Homo sapiens: one gene and its partners. The protein of the gene in region 1 interacts with the protein of each later gene in a biochemical or structural test. Each region holds a gene or a part of one and is shown in the gene's direction. Other genes may lie near its edges.

Region 1 (7,194 bases):
CTGATATTTTATATGAAATGACTCATTTGATTTTCATAGTGTATCAGTAGTGGAAGCCAGGGCAGAGTCTAAATTTATGGGTATTGCACATCAGAATTATTAACAAAATATGAGATAAAACAATTTGTTTAAGTTGTCTTGAAGCTACAAAATAGTGATTTTTTTTTTTTTTTTTTTTTTTTTTGTGAGACAGGCTCCCACTCCGTAGCCCAGGCTGGAGCGCAGTGGCATGATTTCCATTTGCTATAACCTCTGCTTCCCAGGCTCAATTGATTTTTCCACCTCAACCTTCTGAGTAGCTGAGTAGCTGGGACTACAGGCATGAGCCACCAATACCCAGGTAATTTTTGTACTTTTTGTAGAGATGGGGTTTTGCCGTGTTGCTCAGGCTGGTCTGGAACAACTGAGCTCAAAGCGATCCGCCCACCTCAGCCTCCCAAAGTGCTGAGATTACAGGTGTGAGCAAAATAGTGATTTCTGAGCACAAATGGCTATGAAACATATAAGCTGTTTATCTTAAGTAATATACTCTTAATTAACATATAATCTAAGCTCAAGACACTTCTCAAACACTATTTCAGTGTATTAATATGAGTTTCAGTGGATTAAAACAAATTTTAAGAGTTCTGAAGTTTAAATCTATATAATTTAAATTTCAACATAGTGTCTCATTAATCTTTTTTTTTTTGAGACAGAGTCTTGCTCTGTCACCCAGGCTGGAGTGCAGTGGCGTGATCTCGGCTCACTGCAACCTCCGTCTCCCGGGTTCAAGCAATTCTCCTGCCTCAGCCTCCTGAGTAGCTGAGATTACAGGCATGTACCACCATATCCAGCCAATTTTTGTATTTTTAGTAGAGATGGGGCTTTGCCATGTTGGCCAGGCTGGGCTCGAACTCCTGGCCTCAGGTGATCCGCCTGCCTCGGCCTCCCAAAGTTCTGGGATTACAGATGTGAGCCACCTTGCCTGGCGTCATTAATCTTTTATAAAAATTTTTTTTTAATTAAATGGAGACAAGGTCTTCTATGTTGGCCAGGTGGTCTTGAACTCTTGGCCTCAAGCAATCCTCCTGCCTCAGCCTCCTAAAATGCTAGGATTACAGGCATGAGCTGCCATGCTCAGCCTCATTTAATCTTATTTGTATTAATTCACAACAAATCTCAATACTCTAACAAGAGTAAAAACATTTTAAATAAAATTTTTAAAAAAAGCTTATTTCCCTAGCTAAATTTTCAAATAATTGTTAATTTAGGAATAAAACCCAGAATATCTTTTTTCCCCCTTGCTGAATATTCATATTATCTTTATTTTAAATAGACTCAATTTCAAGAGATAAATTATCCTCTGTATCTTTTTTTTTTCTTTTTTTCTTTTTTGAGATGGAGTCTTGCTCTGTCGCCAGGCTGGAGTGCAGTGGCGTGATCTCGGCTCACTGTAACCTCCACCTACCAGGTTCAAGCGATTCTCCTGTCTCAGCCTCCCAAGTAGCTGGGATTACAAGCGTGCACCACCATGCCCAGCTAATTTTTGGTGTTTTTTTTGAGACGGAGTTTCATTCTTGTTGCCCAGGCTGGAGTGCAATGGCACGATCTCGGCTCACTGCAACCTCCGCCTCCCAGGTTCAAAGGATTCTCCTGCCTCAGCCTCCCTAGTAGATGGGATTACAGGTGCCTGCCACCACGCCCAGCTAATTTTTTTGTATTTTTAGTAGAGACGGGGTTTCACCATGTTGGCCAAGCTGGTCTTGAACTCCTGACCTTAGGAGAGCCACCCTCCTCAGCCTCCCAAAGTGCTGGGATTACAGGCGTGGGCCACAATGCTCTGCCAAGACCGAGTCTTGCTGTCATCCAGGCTGGAGTGCAGTGGTACAATCTTGGCTCACTGCAGCCTCTGCCTCTCAGGTTCAAGTGATTCTCCTGCCTCTGTCTCCTGAGTAGCTGGGACTATAGGCGCGCGCCACCACGCCGGGCTTTTTGTATTTTTGGTAGAGACGGGGTTTCACCATGTTGGCCAGAATAGTCTGCATCTCCTGACCTCGTGATCTGCCTGCCTCGGCCTCCCAAAGTGCTGGGATTACAAGCGTGAGCCACCGCTCCCGGCCTTATCCCCTGTATCTTACACTTCTAGTCTGACTGGGGAGTTGAAAACATATGACTTCTCACAGATTAGTTTTTTATTTTTTATTGTAAGCATAAGTGTTTTCTTCAAAGCTGCTCTTCTTTTTCTGTCAAATGCATCTTTATATCACTAAAATGAATTTGGGTTTGGGGAAGCGCCGCCATTTTTAACTTTTTTTTTTTTTTTTTTTTTTTTTTTGAGACAGAGTTTAGCTCTTTTTGCCCAGACTGGAGTGCAATGGCGTGATCTCGGCTCACTACAACCTCCACCTCCCAGGTTCAAGTGATTCTCCTGCCTCAGCCTCCCGAGTAGCTAGGACTATAGGTGCACGCCACCACACCTGGCTAATTTTTGTATTTTTAGTAGAGATGGGGTTTCTCCACGTTGGTCAGGCTCCGGACCTCAGGTGATCCGCCCCCCTCAGCCTCCTAAAATGTTGGGATTACAGGCGTGAGCCACTGCATCTATCTGTCCTTTAACGTATTTTTAATTGAAATATTGACGAGATAAAAATAAACAACGTAAAAATCATACTGCTTAAGGGAACCTTTAAGGAGCCTTACCAACTGTGGTATAACTATTAATAGTTCAAAGAAATTACATTATCTAGGTTACTTGCAATGGAAGTTGAGTTACTCGCTTCACCTAAACAAGGAAGTTGGCATGTTTGCCTAGCAACAGTCGCTAAAACCTTCTGTTGTGGAAGGTTCCCTAGGAGTGAGAAGAAGGGAGGAGGAGGAAAAGCAGGAGGAGCAGATTAATCTGTTTTTCCTAGCAGGGTACAGAGGCCTGGTCTGAGAAGGGAAAGGCTTTAAGAGATCCCTTTAGATTGGCACATGCTAACCTAAATCCCCCTGTGGTAGCTAGAAATTCACTCTCTGTAGGACTGGGGTTACTATTTAGTAGGCTGAAAAGACGATTACAGATTAAACCCAGTTCAGAGGCAGCAAATTCCAATCAGTGGAAAGACAACAATAGGTCTTCTAAACAGAAGCTGAGATCTCAGTAGCAGGAGGGTGCTAACAACTAAAAAGAATTCTTCTCTGCCAAGAGTTTAGGAAGGTGTGTGATATTTCTTAAAAATAATACAAAAACACTATCTGTGATAGCGATTCCAATGTATCAAGTTAAAGGCAGAAGTGCTTCTCTTGGGGTACTGTGATGTAAACAGTGAAGAAAGGACAGAAAAACATAATCTCTGCTCTCTTGGTCAAATCCTGAAGCAAAAAAGGTGATAGCGCCGAGTAGAGGTATTAAATGGTTGTTTATTTGGGGACTCTCTCTCTCCTCTATTCTAGATGATTTATTTTGAAATTAGTACTGTATGGTGTTACAATAATCCCATTTCTTCCCCTTCTCAAAAGCGAGGGTTTGGCTAAAATGAATTGTCTGAAGGGACCTCCCATTCCCCAAAACCAAAACGGCACCTTTTCCACAAGGGACAAGAAACTTTTAAAGAGTCGCAAGGTTAGATTTCAGGAGCCCTTCTATGGGCCATATCTTTTCCTGTCGTCCCCAAATAGCTCTTATTGTTCACACAGCCCAGGAGAGACGTTTTGGAGTAGCGTGTCCGGGCCTTTTGGGCTGTTTCACAGCCTTAGGAGGCTGAACTCCCAGAGGGGTGACGAGGACAAAGCTGATGAGATCCAGAACCTGGATAATATGGAAGAAGAAAAATGGGGTGGGGGACAAGACGTGAAAAAGAAACAAGAGTTGGGGGACAACGGCTGAGAAAGCCGAAAGAGTAGACGTAGTGTGGGGTTCGATGGAAACGAAAGAAATTCCCCCAATTTACTCTCGCCATCTGGCCACTGGCCCGCTGAGCCCAAAGGCGCCGGTGCGGGAGGGCAGACCGGACCGAGGGACCGGTTCATCTGCTCAGGGCGTGTGAGACTTTCGGTCGCGGCGGAGAGCGTCGCCGGTCTCCCTCCGGGCGTTGGTGGCCGGTGACTCAGAGCTTTGCTCCCGCGCCCGCCCCTCCCCTCCGCCCGCCCCGCCTCCTGAGGGAGGATCCTCGCCCTCGTCTCCGCCCCAGTCTCCGGGGCGGGCCGGAGCCTGAGGAAGAGGAAGGGGACGAGGACAACGAGCGACTGGGCGGCGGAGGACGAGGAGGAGGAAGAGGAGGCCGAGCAACAAGATGGCCCCTGCTGCAGGAGCAGCCTCAGCAGCAGCAGGTGGGAGGCCGGAGGCGGTGCTGGCGGTGGCGGCGGCAGCCGTGGCCCGGCGGCCTGGGACAGAATCAGAGTCAACGGTGGCCTCGGCGGCGGCGGCGGCTGCCGCGGCGGTGGCGACGGCCGCGGGGACTCGGAGCTGAGAGGAGCTGCTGCTCGGACCAGCGCGGTGAGCGAGCGGCGGGCGGCGACTTGGGGAGCGGGGCTGCCGCGGCCGGGGCCTCAGTCGGGAACAATAGGCAGCTGTGGTCGGGAAGGGTTTGTCCTCGCCCGCCCTCTGCTCCTCCGCGGCAGCGGCAGCCCGGCCGGCCCCAGGCTCCTCAGGGCCCCCGCCGGCTGTTCTGGGGCTTGTCAGTGGCCGGCGTCCTTTAGGCCTCAGGCCTCTGCATGCCGCCTGTAGGGCCTGTCGGGGTAGGTAGGCCGAGAGGAGGACGAAGGGAGGCTCGGACGAGAGGGAGGGGGCGAAAGGGCTACCTGGCTCCTGTGGTACTCCCAGGGCCTGGGCCAGGCGGGGAATGCGCACGGGAACTGCTTTTTGGACCCCTAGTCTGTGGGGGTGGGGGAGGGCGAAGGCGTCTGTAAACAGGCGCCGCCTCGGCCTCCCAGCACCTCAGGGCTGCTTCCTCCCCCAGCCCCTGAAGCGCTCCCCTTCTTTGGCCAAGTGGATTTCACGGTGTCTGTTTCCCTGAAGTCCCTGGAGATCTAGCCTGGTAGTCTTCTCCCTGCTGGCGATGGGAAAATTGTGTGTGTGCAGGTGTCTTTAAAAAAAAAAAACAAAAAACTTAAATGCAACAAAAACATATAAAATGTGGTTATCGGTAAAGGATGGAGTGGTAAGGGATGCGCCTCTCTAAACATCTCTAAGTATCAGTTCTATAAACATCAGTTATGCCCGCATCCCAGGTGAGAGTGGATTGAAACAAGGGCTCTTTTGGAACAGTAATAACACAACTCTTGACATACCAGAATAGCCTATGAAACTGGAAACAAACACTGGCAACGCGGAGACAAACTGTAATGTTTAAAGAGGACTTTTATTCCAGCTAGGCGTTTTGAATTACTAACATGCAGTATAAGAAGCAACATTAACTAGCATAAAGTGGACCTCAGGAAGCACTTCGAAAGGAGACAGGTGGTTCATCTCCGGCCATAGAGCTTCTTGTGCCTTGTCTCGTGTTTCAGTAATTTTTCCTGAAATTGTTCAAGACCAGTCTTTTCTCTGAGTTTGAAATTTGATTTCGTTTTTGTTTTGTTTTGCGACGGAGTCTTGCTCTGTCACCCAGGCTGGATTGCAGTGGCACAATCTCGGCTCACTACAGCCTCCACCTCCCGGATTCAAGCGATTCTCCTGCCTCACCATCCGGAGTAGCTGGGATTACAGGCGCCCGCCACCATGCCCGGCTGATTTTTGTATTTTTAGTAGAGACGGGGTTTCACCATGTTGGCCAGGCTGGTCTGGAACTCCTGACCTCAAGTCATCTGCCCTCCTCCGCCTCCCAAAGTGCTTGGATTACAGGCGTGAGCCACCTCGCTCAGCCTTAAACTTAATTTTTCAAGGCTTCTACCACATTTTCTTACAAGTGAGGGAAAAGGTAGATTTATTTCTAAAGTACTTTCTACCTAGGTATGCAGAAATTTATATTAAAATCGCTTGGATACATCCAAGGAGATTGCTTTTCACTTGTTAACATTCAACTGCAAGGCCTAAGGGTTATAGGTTGTGTTCTTTTCAGCACTGACCTGTGCTGAAAAGATGCCAGTTAATATCTTTCACCTCTTCTAAGGGTAAATTTCTAAGTAGAATTGGTCCAAGTCTGTTCTAATTAAAAACATTATAAGCAGCACTAGTCTAGTTCTTAGTTCTTCCACAACAATTGACACTGAATAGATTAGCAATTGAATAAACATAAAGGTTGAATTTTCTTGTTTAGGATTTGAAGTATAGTGAATGAATATCAATACTGACCTTCATTTTATGCTTAGCATAAATAATGTTGGAGATGTTTTGATTTTTTGAATGATGGAGAAATAACAACTTTCTATGGCTCCTGATGTTGTGACTTTTTTGCAGATATTTCAGAAAGGACACCGTTTTTCAGGTGCTCAAATCTGTGATTTTTTTTTTTTTTCTGTGCTAATTTTGTTAGGTCAGCACAGATTCCAAGTAAAGTCTGTGTTATAATGATACTTAAATTTATGTATGGCCCTAAACCTATTAGAACAATTGTAGTAATTTATAGGTTGTAAGTTTTAAGTGGTTCATGTGCTGTGTTATGAAAACAATCTCACCGTGTTATGTCAAGGGCAGATTTACCTCATATTTAATATCATTTTCCTGAAAATAAATATTTTTAAGTGGTAAGGTTTTGTATTTCAGATTGGTTATTGACCCAGCAATTTATGGGCTTAGTCTGGGTCCGTATTTCTGTTCAATAGGAAAAAAATTTAGGGAATTGTTTTTATTTATTTTGTGTCAAAACAGTTTTAAGTTTTGACACAAACTCAACTGTCCCTTCTTCAGTATCAATACTTATTACTTAAGTTCACATTTTCTCAGGTAATAAAAATTTACTTCTAAGAAGTTTTGGAACCAGAGCTTAAGAATTAGATTTATATTTTCTTGGTAATATTAAAAGTTAATATATGCTTGATTTATTTGAAGAAATAAAAAAGGGTAATTTGTACACAACGCCTTTCAGAACATATTTGTTGAATGAATAAAAATATTTAAGCTTCCTCATTATGCTGCAGTATTAGTTCTGTTGTCCTCATTTTTTCATATGAAGAATGTGAAGCTAAGAGTAGCTATGTAACCAGCAAAAAGATCACATAATTAATAGGTAAAAGAGCTTACTCAGACTCAGATCTTGTGACACAAATTAGATTCTTTGCCACTACCACATGTGT
Region 2 (7,744 bases), on another chromosome or scaffold:
TTGTTTGTTTGTTTGTTTTTAGATGGAGTTTCGCTTTGTTGCCCAACCTGGAGTGCAATGCTGCAGCAACCTCTGCCTCCCAGGTTCAAGTGATTCTCCTGCCTCAGCCTCCCGGGTAGCTGGGATTACAGGCATGAGCCACCATGCTCGGCTAATTTTTCTATTTTCAGTAGAGATGGGGTTTCACCATGTTGGCCAGGCTGGTCTCGAATTCCTGACCTCAGGTGATCCACCGGCCTTGGCCTCCCTAAGTGCTGGGATTACAGGTGTGAGCCACCATGCCCGGCCTCATCACACACTCTGTTAACCACACATCCCTTCTCCTCTCTGTCTTCTGCAAGTCCACAGTCCTTCCTGTCGACAGTTTGTCAGCTTTACTTTCTGCAGCTTATGCTACAAAAACTGTAGCACGAGGTTGGGGGGGTTCCTTAACTATAAATAGGAAATTGAAGGTTGTGGATAACATTATATAATTTTTGTTTTTTCACCTTTTGAATATACTTTTTCAAACTACTCATGCCTTTTACATCCCAGAGATTCCAAACCAGCCCTAGTGTTTTCCCACTTGAAAAGAGAGTTCACGAATGGACATTGTGGATCTGTCAGGTCTACATGCCTCTCAACCGAACCACTGCGTCAGCTTCCTGTATCTATTAGGTATGCTTTTTGGTGGTAGGTAACAAAAACCTACCTTTAAGAACAACTTAAGCAACAGGCACATTATCTCATGTCTTCAGATGTCTGCAGTTGGGCAGCCCTGCAATTCCTTCAGCAGCTCAGCCACATCACCCAGGATTCTAATTCTAACCATTACAACCTCATATTGTAGGAAGGAGGAAAGGGGACAAAAATAGGCTTTTTCTTCAGCTTTTTTGTTTGAGACAGTCTCGCTCTGTCGCTCAGACTGGAGTGCAATGGCACGATCTTGGCTCACTGCAACCTCTGCCTCCCAGGTTCAAGCGATTCTCGTGCCTCAGCCTCCCGGGTAGCTGGTATTACAGGCCTGAGCCACCAAGCTCGGCTAATTTTTGTATTTTCAGTAGAGACGGGGTTTTGCCATTGTGGCCAGGGTGGTCTCGAAATCTTGACCTCAGGTGATCCGCCCGCCTCGGCCTCCCAAAGTGTTGGGATTACAGGTGTGAACCAGGGCGCCCAACCTTCTCTTCAGCTTTTATGAGGGGAGGGAAAGTTTCCAAACACCCACCTTGCCATGTGGGGCCATGGCGACTGGAATGGCGGTAAACATGCCCAATACACCTTCTCTCTGGGTTCCCTGCTACCAATATTGCTGCTGCCCAATTGGGTGTCCTCGCCCTGTCTCCTCATGGCAGCACGATGCACTTTGTAAAAAGGCAAACCTGCCCACATTTAGCTCAAAACCTCCCAGGCTCCACCTCCCTCATCACGGGAGAGCCAGCGGGTGACACAGGGTAAAGAGAACTGGATTCCAAAACTGATTTTACTCCTTCCTTGTTGTGTGACCTTGGAAAAGCCATCTAACTCCTCTAAGTCTCAGTTTTCTCATCTCACAAATGGAAATGGTAACAGCTACTTTGCAAGGTTCATTGAGGATTAGGTAATAATAGCAGCTAATACTTATATTGCACTTAGTGCCAAGCCCTCTTCTAAATTCTCTAGTTCTATTAACCATTTTAATCTTCCCCAAAATCCGATAAAACAAGACTCTTATCCCATCAGCTGAGTTTATCAGCTCAAGCGCAGAGCGGTGATCAGGCGCAGGCGCCGGAAGGAATCCTGCTCTGGGGACCGGCTGTGACGTCCAGGAATGGGGCAGAAACTCTTCGAGGGAGCGTGTGCGCGGGACGTACTACAACTCCCATCAGGCACTGCGCCAACGCTAGACTACAACAACCAGCATGCCTCGGGCTGTCCCGCCTAACCTCTTCCTGCGATGAGCTCGGCACGGGAATTATTATTGTCAATTTTACTTGCAAGAAGTTTCCTACAAGAGCCAAGGAATCCATGCGAGTAAACATTTACGGGCACCATAGATAAAAGGCTTGTGTTTTAATCCTCATCCTCTCCACCTGTTAGCTCTGAGTCTCAGTTTTCTCATCTCTAAAAATGGGGATATTCACAGGAGTTGCTGCATCGAGTTGTGAGGATTAAAAGTTGGATGTAACGGCTTGGTAATTATGAGCTCTTCTAGTGTCCCTTCCTCTTCCCTGTGCCCAAGGGGTTTTAGGAAAGCATTTTATCTCCACAGCAATCCTATGAGGTTGATACTACTATCCTCATAGAAGGGGAAACTGATGCCAGGAGAGGTTCAAGCGTCTTACCTGAAGTCACAAAGCAAACTGAGTGATGAAGGAAGACTTGAACCTAGAAAATTTCACTGCAAAGGTGAGTCCACCTTAGGAACCCAAATGCTTCCACTTGCTACTGATGCTTTACAGTGACCCCAAGTCCAGGGCAAGTATTTTCTGTGCTCCCCAAAGCAAACTTGTATCACGTGATACACGAAAAGTCAAGTTGCTTCACCTGTAGCCAGTGCTGGCACTTTGAGAGCTAATTATAGCTGAATTTGATGTGGTTGGAGGAATCGAGGAAGGCTTCCCTGAGGGGATGGTGCTGGATCTGAGAACTGAAGAGTGGGAACAGCACAGGCAAAGCCCCTGAAGTGGGAGAGGGCATGTGTTCCAGGGGGCTTGCAAAGGGCCAGTGTCGCCGCAGAGGTACAGAAAGTCTCAGAGGCGCAGGCTGTGCCAAGGCTATGGTGAGGCAAGTGGGGTACCTAGGGTGCAGATTTTTTTTTTTTTTTTGAGACTGAATCTCTCTCTGTTGCCCAGGCTGGAATGCAATGGTGCAATCTCAGCTCACTGCAACCTCTGCCTCCCGGGTTCGCTCGATTTTCCTGCCTCAGCCTCCCGAGTAGCTGGGATTACAGGTGTGTGCTACCACGCCCCGCTAATTTTTGTATTTTTAGTAGAGACGAGGTTTCACCATGTTGACCAGGCTGGTCTGGAACTCCTGACCTCAGGTGATCTGCCCACCTCGGCCTCCCAAAGTGCTGGGATTACAGGTGTGAGCCACCATGCCCTGCCCTAGGGTGCAGATTTTAAGGAGTCACTCACCTGCAGCGCTGTGCAAGTGCGGAGTCAGGACCTGAGTGAAAGCCCCGTTAAATCTGACCACCCCATCCTCGTCCCTGCCCTGGGTGCAGAGCCTGGTGCACAGGGTGTCCAGGCATCCTGCTTTGCCCTGGAGAGCCCTGGTTTCCACTTGTCCTGGTGAGATTATAATAAGTCCCCTTTTAATCTGATGTGTGTCCTCATTAGGTGATAATTCTATGGTCGCTCAACTTGTAAAGTTTGTATTTTATCCAGAGGGAATGGGGAGCCACTGAAGGCTTTAGCTGGAGGGTGTTTTGAGCAGATGTTGGTCTATATGGAGAATGGGCCATAGGGGAGAGAATGGAAGCTGCTGGGGTCTTCCAAGTGGGAGATAAAGGCAGCTTGCCCTGAGTGGAGAAGTGAACGGAGTGGAGAGATGCAGAGTAGGCACTGCTATCAGACAAAGGTGATGAATTGGATGTGCTGGGTGAGGGCTTCCAGCTTCCTTGTCCCTCTATGTTTAGAGTCCTGGTCCTTCTGCCAGTATTTTGCTCTGTGACCTTAAGCCAGTCCCTTCACCTCTCTCAGCCTCAGTGTCTACATCCATATAAGGGCTTCTCAGACAATTTATAATAAAGGAGGAGTACCTTCTTGGGTTTATTTATTTGCAAAAATATTTCCCAAGGGCCTTTGCACAAGCTGTTCCCTCTACCTCCTCATTGTTACGGTCTCTGCTGAAATATGACCACCTTAGGAGGCCCTTCCTGACCATCCTCTGCTGCTCTTGTCTTGGTTTATCTCTACCCTATCAGAATTATAGTTTCCTGTTTATTTACTTGCTGTCTACGACTAGAATGTAAGTCCCTGAAAGCAGGGATTTGCTTCTTCAGAGATGTCTATCCATCCCCAGCGCCTAGCACAGTGTCTGGTACATAGTAGGTGCTTAATGTTTGTTTGTTTGGTTGAATGAATGAATGAACGAATGAATGAATGAATGAATGAATGAATTGGGTAGATGGTTAGCAAATGCTTTCCCTGCCACCTTAATGCCCCTAAATCATTTAGCTGCACCCACTCCAAGCCTTCTCTGGCCGGGGAGCATCAATCCTAGGAGCCAGATCATCTGACCTGGAGGGTGATGATTCAAAAAATTTGAACCTGGAGGTTAAAATTCTGCCTGTCTCTGCCACTTAACAGCTGAGTTTAGATAAATCGCTTGATCTCTCTCGGCTGCATTTTTCACATTAATTCTGACCTTGCGGAGATGTGGTGAGGATCTAGATAGGAACTAGACAGGAAAAAGCCCCAAGCGAATTCGGCGCTTTTGTTTGAAGCTATATTTTCTTTTTCTTTCACAATCGCGCCTTCCCAAGCCTAGTCACCCCTGCCCTTCTCACTAAGCACATCACAACCTCCCTCGCACCCGATGTGTGGGGACTTGCAGGTTGCTGGGCCCTCGAGCACGCAGATATTTCCTTTCTCTAAAAGGGAAGGAAAAGAGCCTTCCAGGCCACGGGTCGTGCAGGTCTCCGGGGCGGGCGTCAGCGGCGGCGTATGTGCGTGCGCGCGCGCCTGCGCATCAGGGCCGGGGGACGGGTAAGGGGGGGGTGAAGAAGGGGCCGGCCTTCAAGCAAGAGCGACGCAAGATGGCAGCCACCACGGGCTCGGGTGAGCGGGGGCGCCGGGCCCGGCCGGCCGAGGGGGCATGGGCTTGGGCCGGGGGCCGGGGACCCTCAAAGCCTCCTGCAGCGGAGCCAGGGTCCCCGCGCCGCCTCTGTCTGCTGGGCTCCGCGGCAGCCACCGGCGCGGCCTGACCGGGGGAGGAGGAGCAGGCGGTGGCCGGAAGCACGGGCGGGGGGCTGAGGGGCCTGTGGGCGGCGCGGCGAGGCCCTGAGGCTCCCCCGGGAGGCGTGAGGGCCCTCTGTGCTGTCTGGGGGAGCCGGAGTGGGCGAGGAGCGAGCTCCGAGGCACTCCTGAGGATACCGGGGCTGGCGACTCTTAAGGGGCGATCTAGAGGTCCCCTAGAGGAGGCGCCCCACAGCGGATGGAAGTCCCATACTGGGTGCCAGGGGTGCGGCTGAGAGGGGCCTTGGGATGTCTGGAGGGGACATCAGAGAAGCCCTTCAGGCTGGATGGAAGAAACGGGATCCTGAGGGGGTGACTTGAGAGGATCCCCTATCGGTTGAGGGAACGGCTCCGGCGTTAGTTTTAGAGATGGGGTTAGCTGAGGAAATAGCTATGTTGACTAGAAAGGAGGAGCCTTGGAGCAGCTGCTTTTGGGGAGAATGAAGGGGGTCTCCGCATGATAAGTGAGAGGAGGGAAAAGGATTCAGATGCCAGAGGGACCTAATAGCGGTGATAGTGAAATGACCCCATCATTACCAGTCTCCTGTTCGAGGATACAGATGGATTGCTTCAAGTTAGGTTTCAGGGGACAAGGTCCGAGTGGGGCAGTTGGTGGAAGCCTCTGATATTGGATGAGGGAGAACAGATGAATTGGGAGCCCCGAGGATGTCTCTTTGGGAGTGGGGATTCAACTGAGGGAAGCCCCTGAAATGAGGGAGTGGAAAAGGTCGGGTTCCGGAGATGTTTCCTGTAAAGGAGAAAAGTCTCCTCTTTTTGAATTGAGTGAGGGAAGCATATCCTAGAAGTGTCTCTTCTGTGGAGACGCTCACTCTCATCGACTCCTTTAATAATTGGGACAGATATGTGGGTTCAGCTCAGAAGTTCCCCACTGGCTGATGGGAGTAGGGAGGTGAATAGATGAAATGGGAACTCTTGGGTGAGGCTGCACCCTCAGGTGCCTGGCAGTGAAGTTGGCCAAGGAGGTTCTCTCAGATGGGGTGAAAATGGGTTACCTCTCTGATGGAGGAAGCAAACAGGGCCACAGTGTTCCCCACTGTGGGGCTGCAGGGACACCAGCCTGAGTACAGCAATCATTGGCATATTTAAGGCCACAGCAGCGGCAGTGTTGGGAAGGAATTGGTGATCCATGGGAAATAGGGTGAGGGGAATTCTTTATAAATGTTGCTACTCTGCGGTCTCAAGGAGCCATACTTGCCTGATGGTTGGGGTGGGAATAAAAGAAATTGAATGTGGGGGATCTGACTGAAGTGACCCACCACAAGCTGCTGCCTTTTGAGTTTAAAACAGTGGGGTCTTCTTGCAGAATAGCGGAGACCATGAATCCTTTTACTCGATTTTGGTTTCAGCTGGAACAGTGCTGAGTCAATTCATTTACCATGACGCTGCCCCAGGCACTCCCAGAAGAGAGATTCTGAGTCAGGCCAGACTGCTGGGTAAAACTTCTCACCAGAATAACACTCCTACCGGGTCGTAATAAACGAAGGGGCCCAGTGTGCTGGTGGTAGCCAGCAATAAGGTGCTGTTGCAGCTCAGCCCTGCTTGCAGTCACTCGGTTGGCTACCTACAATCTGGGTTAACAGCTGCCCGGTTCTAACTTCTCCAGACCCTGACAGTTAAAAAGTGAGTGCTTCATAAATGGCTATGGTGATCAGATAAAATGTCAGCTGCTGTCTAGTGGAATACAAGAGCACTTGGCATGGTTTAGATAACATAGGACAGGCTTTGAGGTGCCCTAAAATGGACTTCCCAAAATTCTTTTGTCTGTTTATTCAACAGATATTTACTGAGGGCCTATTATGTCCCATCGTGGATAGCAAACAAAATGGACATAGTCTGTATCCTTCGGGAGCTTCCATTCAAGTCAGGGAGAGAAGGCTGTTAAGGAGTAAATAAGACAATTTCAGATAGCAGTAAGTGCTATGGAGGAAATTGTGTGATGTGATAGTGTCTGGAGAGGTGGTCAGGAAAGTGACATTTCAGCTGAGTCAAATAATGGAAAGAGCTAACCCTACAGTGTCACAGGCAGGAGAGAGAGTGGGCTGTTAGTGCAAAGGCCCTGTGGTGGGACTCTGCTTGGCATGTTGAAATAACAGGATAAAAGGCCTTCATGTGCAAGCAAGGCTTGTTAAGGAGATGAGTTGGAGAGACATGGCTTTGGATTTGAGATGGTATGAGGGGAAGCCATCAAACAAGTGTCTGGTATGAAGTAGGCATTCAGTAAATATTTGTTGAATGAATGAATAAGAGTCTTAAAAAGAGGAGTATGATAAGATCTGACCTTCGTCCCTAGGCAGTGAAAAGAGTGCAGGGTGCTAAGAGTAAAGCAGACCTTACTTGGGGTAAACTAAAATGAGTGTACAGGCCTCTCTGCTTTCTAACCCTGAGAAGTCTTCCAGGTGTGGTCAGGGCCCAGAGGCCTTCCTTAGTCAGGTTTAGAGTGAGGCTCTTGATTAATCTGTGCCTCCGGTTGCCAGGAAACAGCTGTGAAGCCTTTGAGTTCCTGTAAGGGCTGAACTTAGTTTTTTATGGTCACTGCTTTCAGCATTTGGCTACACCACCTTCCCACTTCCTTTGGTTCTGCAATGTGTGATATCTACATATGTCTTAGAGGGTGGAACTGTGAAAAGCCCACCACAGATCCTCAGAATCCCCATGTTATGACGGGTGACTTCCTCCTGCCTTGGCCAGGATTGCAGCACATCAAATAGTGGCCCTTGGTTGCCAGGCCCTTCCTCTCACTCAGCAGCCCACGAGCTTCCCTGACATTTAATCAGAAAATGAGTGCCAGAGGGGTAAGCCCTGGT
Region 3 (7,725 bases), on another chromosome or scaffold:
GGATTATAGGCATGAGCCACCGCACCCGGACAGTTTTTAAATTTTCTGTAGAGATGCGGCCTCACCTTGTTGCTTAGGTTGGTCTCGAAATCTTGGGCTCAAGAGATCTGACTGCCTCGACCTCCCTAAGTGTTGGTACTACAGTCGTGAGCTACCAGGCCTGAACAAATGTTGACCTTAATAGTTGTTTACTTCTTTTTTTTTTTGAGATGGAGTCTCACTCTGATCTCAGCTCACTGCAAGCTCTGCCTCCCGGGTTCAAGTGATTCTTGTGCCTCAGCCTCCCGAGTAGCTGGAATTAAAGGCATGTGCCACCATGCTCGGCTGATTTTTATATTTTTAGTAGAGACAGGGTTTCTCCATGTTGGCCAGGTTGGTCTCCAACTCCTGACCTCAGGTGATCCACTCACCTCGGCCTTCCAAATTGCTGGGATTATAGGCGTGAGCCACCACGCCTGGCTGTTGTTTACTTTTTGACTATTCTGTCCCATTAGATGTTACTGTCATGAGGTAGGAACCTGGTCAGTGTAGTTTACACCTAGACCTTGAGTCCTAGGATTGTGTCTAGCTCATAGCAGTTGCTCAGTAAATGTTTGTTAAATAAAGCAATAGTTAGACAGTTGGGTGTGCAAGCGTTCATTCAGGCTTGAGGATCAGCCAGGCACTAAAATGGTGAGAGAAGGAGACAAACAGCCAAGTTTGTTGAGGGCGTATGAAGAGAAGGGTTGTAGTAATGGACTACTCTCTAAGCTCAGAAGAGAAGGAAGAGGAGAACAGGAAGGAAATGACAGATAGTAAAAAAGTGGTAAACAGGGCTGGACGCGGTGGCTCATACCTCTAATCCCAGCACTTTGGGAGGCCGAGGTGGGCAGATCACGAGGTCAGGAGATTGAGACCATCCTTGCTAACATGGTGAAACCCCATCTCTACCAATAATACAAAAAAAAAGAGCCAGGCATGGTGGCACGCGCCTATAGTCCCAGCTACTCGGGAGGCTGAGGCAGGAGAATCACTTGAACCCGGGAGGCGGAGGCTGCAGTGAGCCGAGATCGCACCACTGCACTCCAGCCTGGTTGACAGAGCGAGACTCTGTTTTAAAAAGAAAAGAAAAAAAAAAGTGGTACACAGAATGGGGTCTTGTTGGTGTGGAAGAGCTGTGTGGCGTGAACGCTAAAGCCAGTAAGCTGGAAGGATAAGGAATGGTGGTCAGGGTGCGTGGCTTGAAACCAAGTACTGGGGTGTGGTGGAATTTTGGGTGGCGAGACTGTCCCACGGGAACACGGAGAGGCCAGCTGGTGGGAAGGGAAGGAGAGGAAGTCAAGTGGTGAGAGGCAGGGGTACCGGACGGGTCATTCATGTGGGTAATTAGGTCCCCAAGGTGGAGGGCTGGAGTAGAATGAAGAGAAGGGCTCTGAGGCAGGAGGAAAAGTCCATGATGAATGGGTCTGCAGGTCACAGCACCAAAGGGGAGTGGCAAGTGCTGCAGCTGGATGGCATTAACCTCAAAAGCAAGAGGGCCCAGGTGCAGTGGCTCACGCGTGTAATCCCAGCACTCTGGGAGGCCAAGGCGGGAGGATCGCTTGAGACCAGTTTGAGACCAGCCTAACCAACAAAGCGAGACCCACTCCTTGGACTTGGTCTGTCATACCAATGGCACCCAGTCACCCGGGTCAGGAGAGTCACCTGTGGTGCTCCCTGCTCTTTCCTATATCCCATAGATCACCAAGGCCTACATATTCTTTGTTTTTTCGTTTTTTGTTTTTTTTGAGACGGAGTTTCACTCTTGTTGCCCAGGCTGGAGTGCAATGGCACAATCTCAGCTCACAGCAACCTCCCCTTCCCGGATTCAAGCAATTCTCCTGCTTCGGCCTCCCAAGTAGCTGGGATTACAGGCATGCACCATCACGCCCGGCTAATTTCGCCTTTTTTTTTTTTTTTTTTTTTGAGACAGAGTCTTGCTCTGTCGCCCAGGCTGGAGTGCAGTGGTGCGATCTCGGCTCACTGCAACCTCTGCCTTCTGGGTTCAAGCGATTCTCTTGCCTCAGCCTCCCAAGCAGCTGGGACTACTATTAGCTGGCCACCACGCCCAGCTAATTTTTGTATTTTTAGTAGAGACGGGGTTTCACTATGTTGGTGAGGCTGGTCTTGACCTCCTGACCTCGTGATCCACCTGCCTTGGCCTCCCAAAGTGCTGGGATTATAGGAGTGAACCACTGCCCTAGGCCCTAATTTTGTATTTTTAATAGAGACGGGGTTTCTCCATGTTGGTCAGGCTGGCCTCGAACTCCTGACCTCAGGTGATCTGCCCGCCTCGGCCTCCCAAAGTGCGGGGATTACAGACGTGAGCCACCTCGCCTGGCCACCAAGGCCTAAATATTTTATGGACACTCCTTAATCCAAGTCTTAGTTACTGCCACAATCTCCATAAGGGTCTCCAGGCTTTAAAAATTTTTATTAAAATTTTAAAATGTTTATTAAAAAAATATTTTGGGCTGGGCATAGTGGCTCATGCCTGCAATTCCATCACTTTAGGAGGCTGAGGCGGGTGGATCACTTGAGCCCAGGAGTTCAAGACCAGCCTGGCCAACATGGTGAAACTCTGTCTCTACCGAAAATACAAAAATTCTCCAGCCATGGTGGCACAGGCCTGTAATCCCTGCCACTCAGGAGGCTGAGGCACGAGAATCACTTGAACCAGGGAGGCAGAGGTGCAGTGACCTGAGATTGTGCCACTGTACTCCAGCCTGGGCGACAGAGGGAGACTGTTTCAAAACAAAACAAAACACACTTTTTTGTAGCGATAGGGTCTTGCTCTGTCACCCAGGCTAGTCTCTAGCTCCTGGCCTCAAGTGATCCTCCTGCGTGGAGTTTCCAAAGAGCTGGGATTACAGATGAGAGCCACCACAGCCTGCAGGGCACTGGTCTTGACCCTCCCTCCCTCATCAATTCTCTGCAGCCACAGCAAAACATTCAAAATGCAAGTCTGCTATTTTTCTACTCCTAGTTAAAACTTTTCAGGGGCCTCCCACTGTTTAAGGATTAGGTTCAATTTCTAAACCTTTATCCAGCCCTGATCTTTCACCAGATTTGGAAATTATTACAAAAAATAAATCTTTTTTTTTTTTTTTTTTACAAAAAATAAATCTTAAGAAACTAGGAATAGGCCGGGCACAGTGGCCCTTGCCTATAATCCTAGCATTTTGGGAGGCTGAGGCAGGCGGATTGCCTGAGTTCAGGAGTTCGAGACCAGCCTGGGCAACATGGTAAAACCCCATCTCTACTAAAATACGAAAGAAAATTAGCCTGGCCTGGAGGCGTGCGCCTGTAGTCCCAGCTACTCAGGAGTCTGAGGCAGGAGAATTGCTTTAACTCGGGAACCTGAGAGGCAGAGGTTGCAGTGGGCCAAGATCACGCCACTGCACTCCAGCCTGGGCGACAGAACAAGGCTGTCTCAAAAAATAAATAAATAAATAAATAAAATAAAAAAGAAAGAAACTAGGAATAGAAGTAAATTTCCTTGATTTGGTAAAGTGAAATATCAAAATGGTCCCTTTGGTCTATTTGATAGGGGGCAGTGGTTCACACTTGTAATGCTAACACTTTGGGAGGCCGAGTTGGAAGGACTGCTTGAACCCAGGAGTTTGAGACCAGCCTGGGCAACACAGAGAGACCTCTGGCCCCCCCCTCCTTTTTTTTTTTTTTTGTGAGACGGAGTCTCTCTCTGTCGGCCATGCTGGAGTGCAGTGGCACCATCTCGGCTCACTGCAATCTCTGCCTCCTAGGTTCAAGCAATTCTCCTTTCTCAGCCTCCCTGGTAGCTGGGAGTACAGGCGCCTGCCACCAGGCTGGGCTAATTTTTGTATTTTTAGTAGAGACCAGGTTTCACCATGTTGGCCAGGATGGTCTCGAACTCGTGACCTCAGGTGATCTGCCCACCTCGGCCTCTCAAAGTGCTGGGATTACAAGCATGAGCCACCGCGCCCCGTCAAACCCCCCGATCTCTATAAAGCAAATAAAAAAATAGCAGGGCATGGTGGTGTGTACCTGTAATCCCAGATACTAAGGAGACTCAGATGGGAGGATCCCTTAAGCCCAGGAGTTCCAAGCTGCAGTGAGCTATGATCACTGCACTCCAGCCTGGGCGACAGAGAGAATTGCCGTCCATAAATGATAATAATAACAGGGCCGGTCTCGGTGGCTCAATAATAATAGGGCCGGACGCGGTGGCTTTTTTTGTGCACTCTTCATGTAAAGTGAGTTATCATCATATATTGCCTCTATTTTGATGTTTGGTTAAAATGGGGCACACCAGTACTAACTTCGGCTTTCTAACAATTCCTACTTCGCACACCATGTGGCAGTGTTAGATGGCTTTTGGGCGCTCGCCAAGGACTAGACATCTACCACTTCTTCTGGCCTCTTCGCTCCTATATCCACTGCTTCAATCCAGAGGCTGTATTTGACCCTCTGCGACCTCTTTGTCATGGCGTCCGCGGGGCGTCTACCAGCGGAGGCTTGGGCTGGCAGCCGGGCGTCGACCTTCCCAAAATGGCGGCGGACGGGACAACTGCGCTCAAGGGGCGGGGTTCCGCCGCCGGGGGCGGGGCGGGAGGCCGAGGGGTCGGGCTAGCGGGCGGGACGCTTCCCAAGTCGGCAGTCTCAGCGCGCCTGCGCCGAGCGGCCCTGCGCGCAGTGAGGCAGTGGCGGGGGAAGGCACCGGTGGGGCCGACGGGCGGGTTGAAGGAGGGAAGCGGGCGAGCGAAGTCCCAGTGCGCGCCGCGGCAGCCCGGGCACCCTCCCCTTCCGGGCGTGAGTCGCTGTGAAAAGAGCTGAAGCGAGCGGACTCGCACCGGCAGCGAGGCGCCGCTCCCGCCGCCTCAGCCCGGCCTTCCTCGGCTCCGGCGCTCCGGTCGCGGGGCCCGGGTTCCTCGGCACACCCCGCTCCAGCCGCCCCCAGAGCCTGTCCCCAGCCCTTCGGAAGCCCCGGCGCCAGCCCGGGCCCTCGGCAGGGAGGATGACGGAGCTGCAGTCGGCACTGCTACTGCGAAGACAGCTGGCAGGTGAGCAGGCGGGCGGCGGGGCGCCGGGCCCGGCCGCGATCGCGGACAGCCGCAGCCCAGTCCCTCTTCTCCTCCCGGGCCAGCGGCCGTACTGCCGAAGGGGCCCGGGCCTGCGAGGGTGGGGACCTCGAGGCTCCGGTCCCGGCCGGGCCCAGCCGTTCTCGCCCGGCTCTTGGAGGGCACTGGGGGCGGGGACGCGACCCAGCTCCGGCCCAGGGACTGGGCCTGGCGCCCGGGGGGTCGGAGAGGAGGAGGTCCCCTCCCCCACCGTTCTGTAGGACGTTGCGGGGGAGGGGCTGTGTGCGGGTCCCCAGGCCGGGGCCGCCAGCTTGGAGGGGCGGGTCCCGGGTTCAGGTGCTGCCGGGGCCGCCGGACCTTCGGGGCCGGCTGGAGCGTCCGGACCCAGTGCGGCTGCGAGTCCCCGGCTCGGTGTCTGAGGGCGGGCGGAAGGGACCGGCCCTGGCGGGATAGGTGAGGCGCACAAAACTTCTCCCCGGGCGGCGCTGGGTCCGCGGAGTTGGGGCCGACAACAAAAGCGCTGGCCTCGGCGGCCTCCACGCGGGCGCGAGGGTGCCGGAGACCCTGGCGGAGTGCGGATCGCCGCCTCGCCTGCCTCCGCCTGGCACGGGCTCCGGCTGCGCCGCCCGGCTGGGGGAGGGTAGGAGCGGGCCGCGGGGAGAGCCGCTCGCTGGCCGGCTCCGGGCTTTGTGCTCGCCGCGATTCCGGCTGCTGCGCAGGCCTGCAAACCCCGGAGCTGCGCCCGCAGGCTCTGGCCCGGGGCGGCGGCCGGGTCGGCCTCCCCGAGGAGCCTGCGGCCCCCCTCCCCCATTGTCCCGGCCTCCGGCCGTTTGCGGCTTCCAGGTTGACTTTTTAGGGGGTTGGCTCCTACTCTGCTAGGACTGTGTGCGCGGAGCATGCGCAGTGGAGACGTCCGTGTGCGGAGTGGAAGGGGGGAGGCGGGTTGGTGGCTTCACAATGCAGCCCCACGTGCTGCCAGATTTAAAGAGAAATGAACCAGCACTTACCCCTGCTGTACAACACCCGGCGTGTGTCATTCTCAGTTCAAGCGATCTTCCCCCTACCCACTCTAAAACCAGTAGCCTCTAGCCCTCAGCAGAAGCCAAAGACTGGAGTGATGAAATCTGTTTTTGAAATACATTTACTAAGAGTTTGAGGTGTTCGTTAAATCACCTTTATGGCTTCTTAAGGAAAAGGTTGTCAGGGGTTCTTACAGATTGTATAATTGGGTTTATTATTAGACCATGAGCAAGCAGGTTTGGACAAGTATTAAAGTTCTAGATGCTCAGGGGGAGTTAGCTTGCAGTAAATGGAGAAGTTCTAATGATACTACAGGATACTCATAAAAATTATGTGCTGGAAAAGCACTGAGGCCGGGCGCGCTGGCTCACGCCTGTAATCCCAGCACTTCGGGAGGCCGAGGCTGGCGGATCACCTTAGGACAGGAGTTCAGGGCCAGCCTGGCCAAAGTGGTGAAACCCCCGTCACTACTAAAAATACAAAAAATTATTCGGGCGTGGCGGAGGGCGCCTGTAATCCCAGCTACTCAGGAGGCTGAGGCGGGAGAATTGCTTGAACGCGGGAGGCATCGTTGCAGTGAGCTGAGATCGCGCCATTGCTTTCCAGCCTGGGCAACAGAGCGAGACTCTGTTCAAAAAAAAGAAGGGCCGGGCGCGGTGGCTCACACCTGTAATCCCAGCACTTTGGGAGGCCGAGGCGGGCGGATCACGAGGTCAGGAGATCGAGACCATCCTGGCTAACACGGGGAAACCCTTTCTCTACTAAAAATCCAAAAATTAGCCGGGCGTGGTGGCGGGCGCCTGTAGTCCCAGCTAATCGGGAGGCTGAGGCAGGAGAATGGCGTGAACCCGGGAGGCGGATGTGCAGTGAGCCGAGATGGCGCCACTGCACTCCAGCCTGGGCGACAGAGCGAGACTGTGTCTCAAAAAAAAAAAAAAAGAACTTTATTGCATTTTTTTTTTTTTTTTTGAGGCAGAGTCTCACTCTATTGCCCAGGCTGGAGTGGAGTTGCGCGATCTCGGCTCACTGCAACCTCTGCCTCCTGGGTTCAAGTGATTCTCCTGCCTCAGCCTCCCGAGTAGCTGGGATTACAGGCGCGCGGCACCAAGCTTGGCTAATTTTTTGTATTTTTAGTAGAGATGGGATTTTACCGTGCTGGCTAGGCTGGTCTTGAACTCCTGACCTGGTGATCCGCCTGCCTGGGCCTCCCAAAGTATTGGGATTACAGGCGTGAGCCACCGTGCCCGTCTGCATCTTTTTTTTTTTTTTTTTTTTTTTTTTTGAGACGGAGTCTTACTCTGTTGCCCAGCTGGAGTGCAGTGGCGCAATCTCGGCTCACTGCAAGCTCCGCCTCCCGGGTTCACGCCATTCCCCTGCCTGAGCTTCCCGAGTAGCTGGGACTACAGGCGCCCGCCACCACGCCCGGCTAATTTTTTGTATTTTCAGTAGAGACGGGGTTTCACTGTGTTAGCCAGGATGGTCTTGATCTCCTGACCTCGTGATCCGCCCGTCTCAGCCTCCCAAAGTGCTGGGATTACAGACGTGAGCCACCGGGCCCGGCCTCTCTGAATTCTTACATAATGGAAAAGATAAACATTTAAAAGGTGTGAAAGAAGTTATGCATTAC

The links.
Region 2: the proteins of RC3H1 (region 1) and UBE2V1 form a complex in vitro, tested with the Homo sapiens proteins (one study listed by BioGRID).
Region 3: the proteins of RC3H1 (region 1) and UBE2G1 form a complex in vitro, tested with the Homo sapiens proteins (one study listed by BioGRID).

Annotation. Positions count from the first base shown.
Region 1 is NC_000001.11:174,019,358-174,026,551, reverse strand, and holds the start of RC3H1 (roquin-1), read left to right. Parts: upstream 1-4,194; 5' UTR 4,195-4,456; intron 4,457-7,194. UniProt on the Homo sapiens protein: Post-transcriptional repressor of mRNAs containing a conserved stem loop motif, called constitutive decay element (CDE), which is often located in the 3'-UTR, as in HMGXB3, ICOS, IER3, NFKBID, NFKBIZ, PPP1R10, TNF, TNFRSF4 and in many more mRNAs.
Region 2 is NC_000020.11:50,110,105-50,117,848, reverse strand, and holds the start of UBE2V1 (ubiquitin-conjugating enzyme E2 variant 1), read left to right. Parts: upstream 1-4,698; 5' UTR 4,699-4,720; coding exon 4,721-4,742; intron 4,743-6,286; exon of another isoform or gene 6,287-6,560; intron 6,561-7,744. UniProt on the Homo sapiens protein: Has no ubiquitin ligase activity on its own. The UBE2V1-UBE2N heterodimer catalyzes the synthesis of non-canonical poly-ubiquitin chains that are linked through Lys-63.
Region 3 is NC_000017.11:4,363,606-4,371,330, reverse strand, and holds the start of UBE2G1 (ubiquitin-conjugating enzyme E2 G1), read left to right. Parts: upstream 1-4,655; 5' UTR 4,656-5,014; coding exon 5,015-5,060; intron 5,061-7,725. UniProt on the Homo sapiens protein: Accepts ubiquitin from the E1 complex and catalyzes its covalent attachment to other proteins. In vitro catalyzes 'Lys-48'-, as well as 'Lys-63'-linked polyubiquitination. May be involved in degradation of muscle-specific proteins.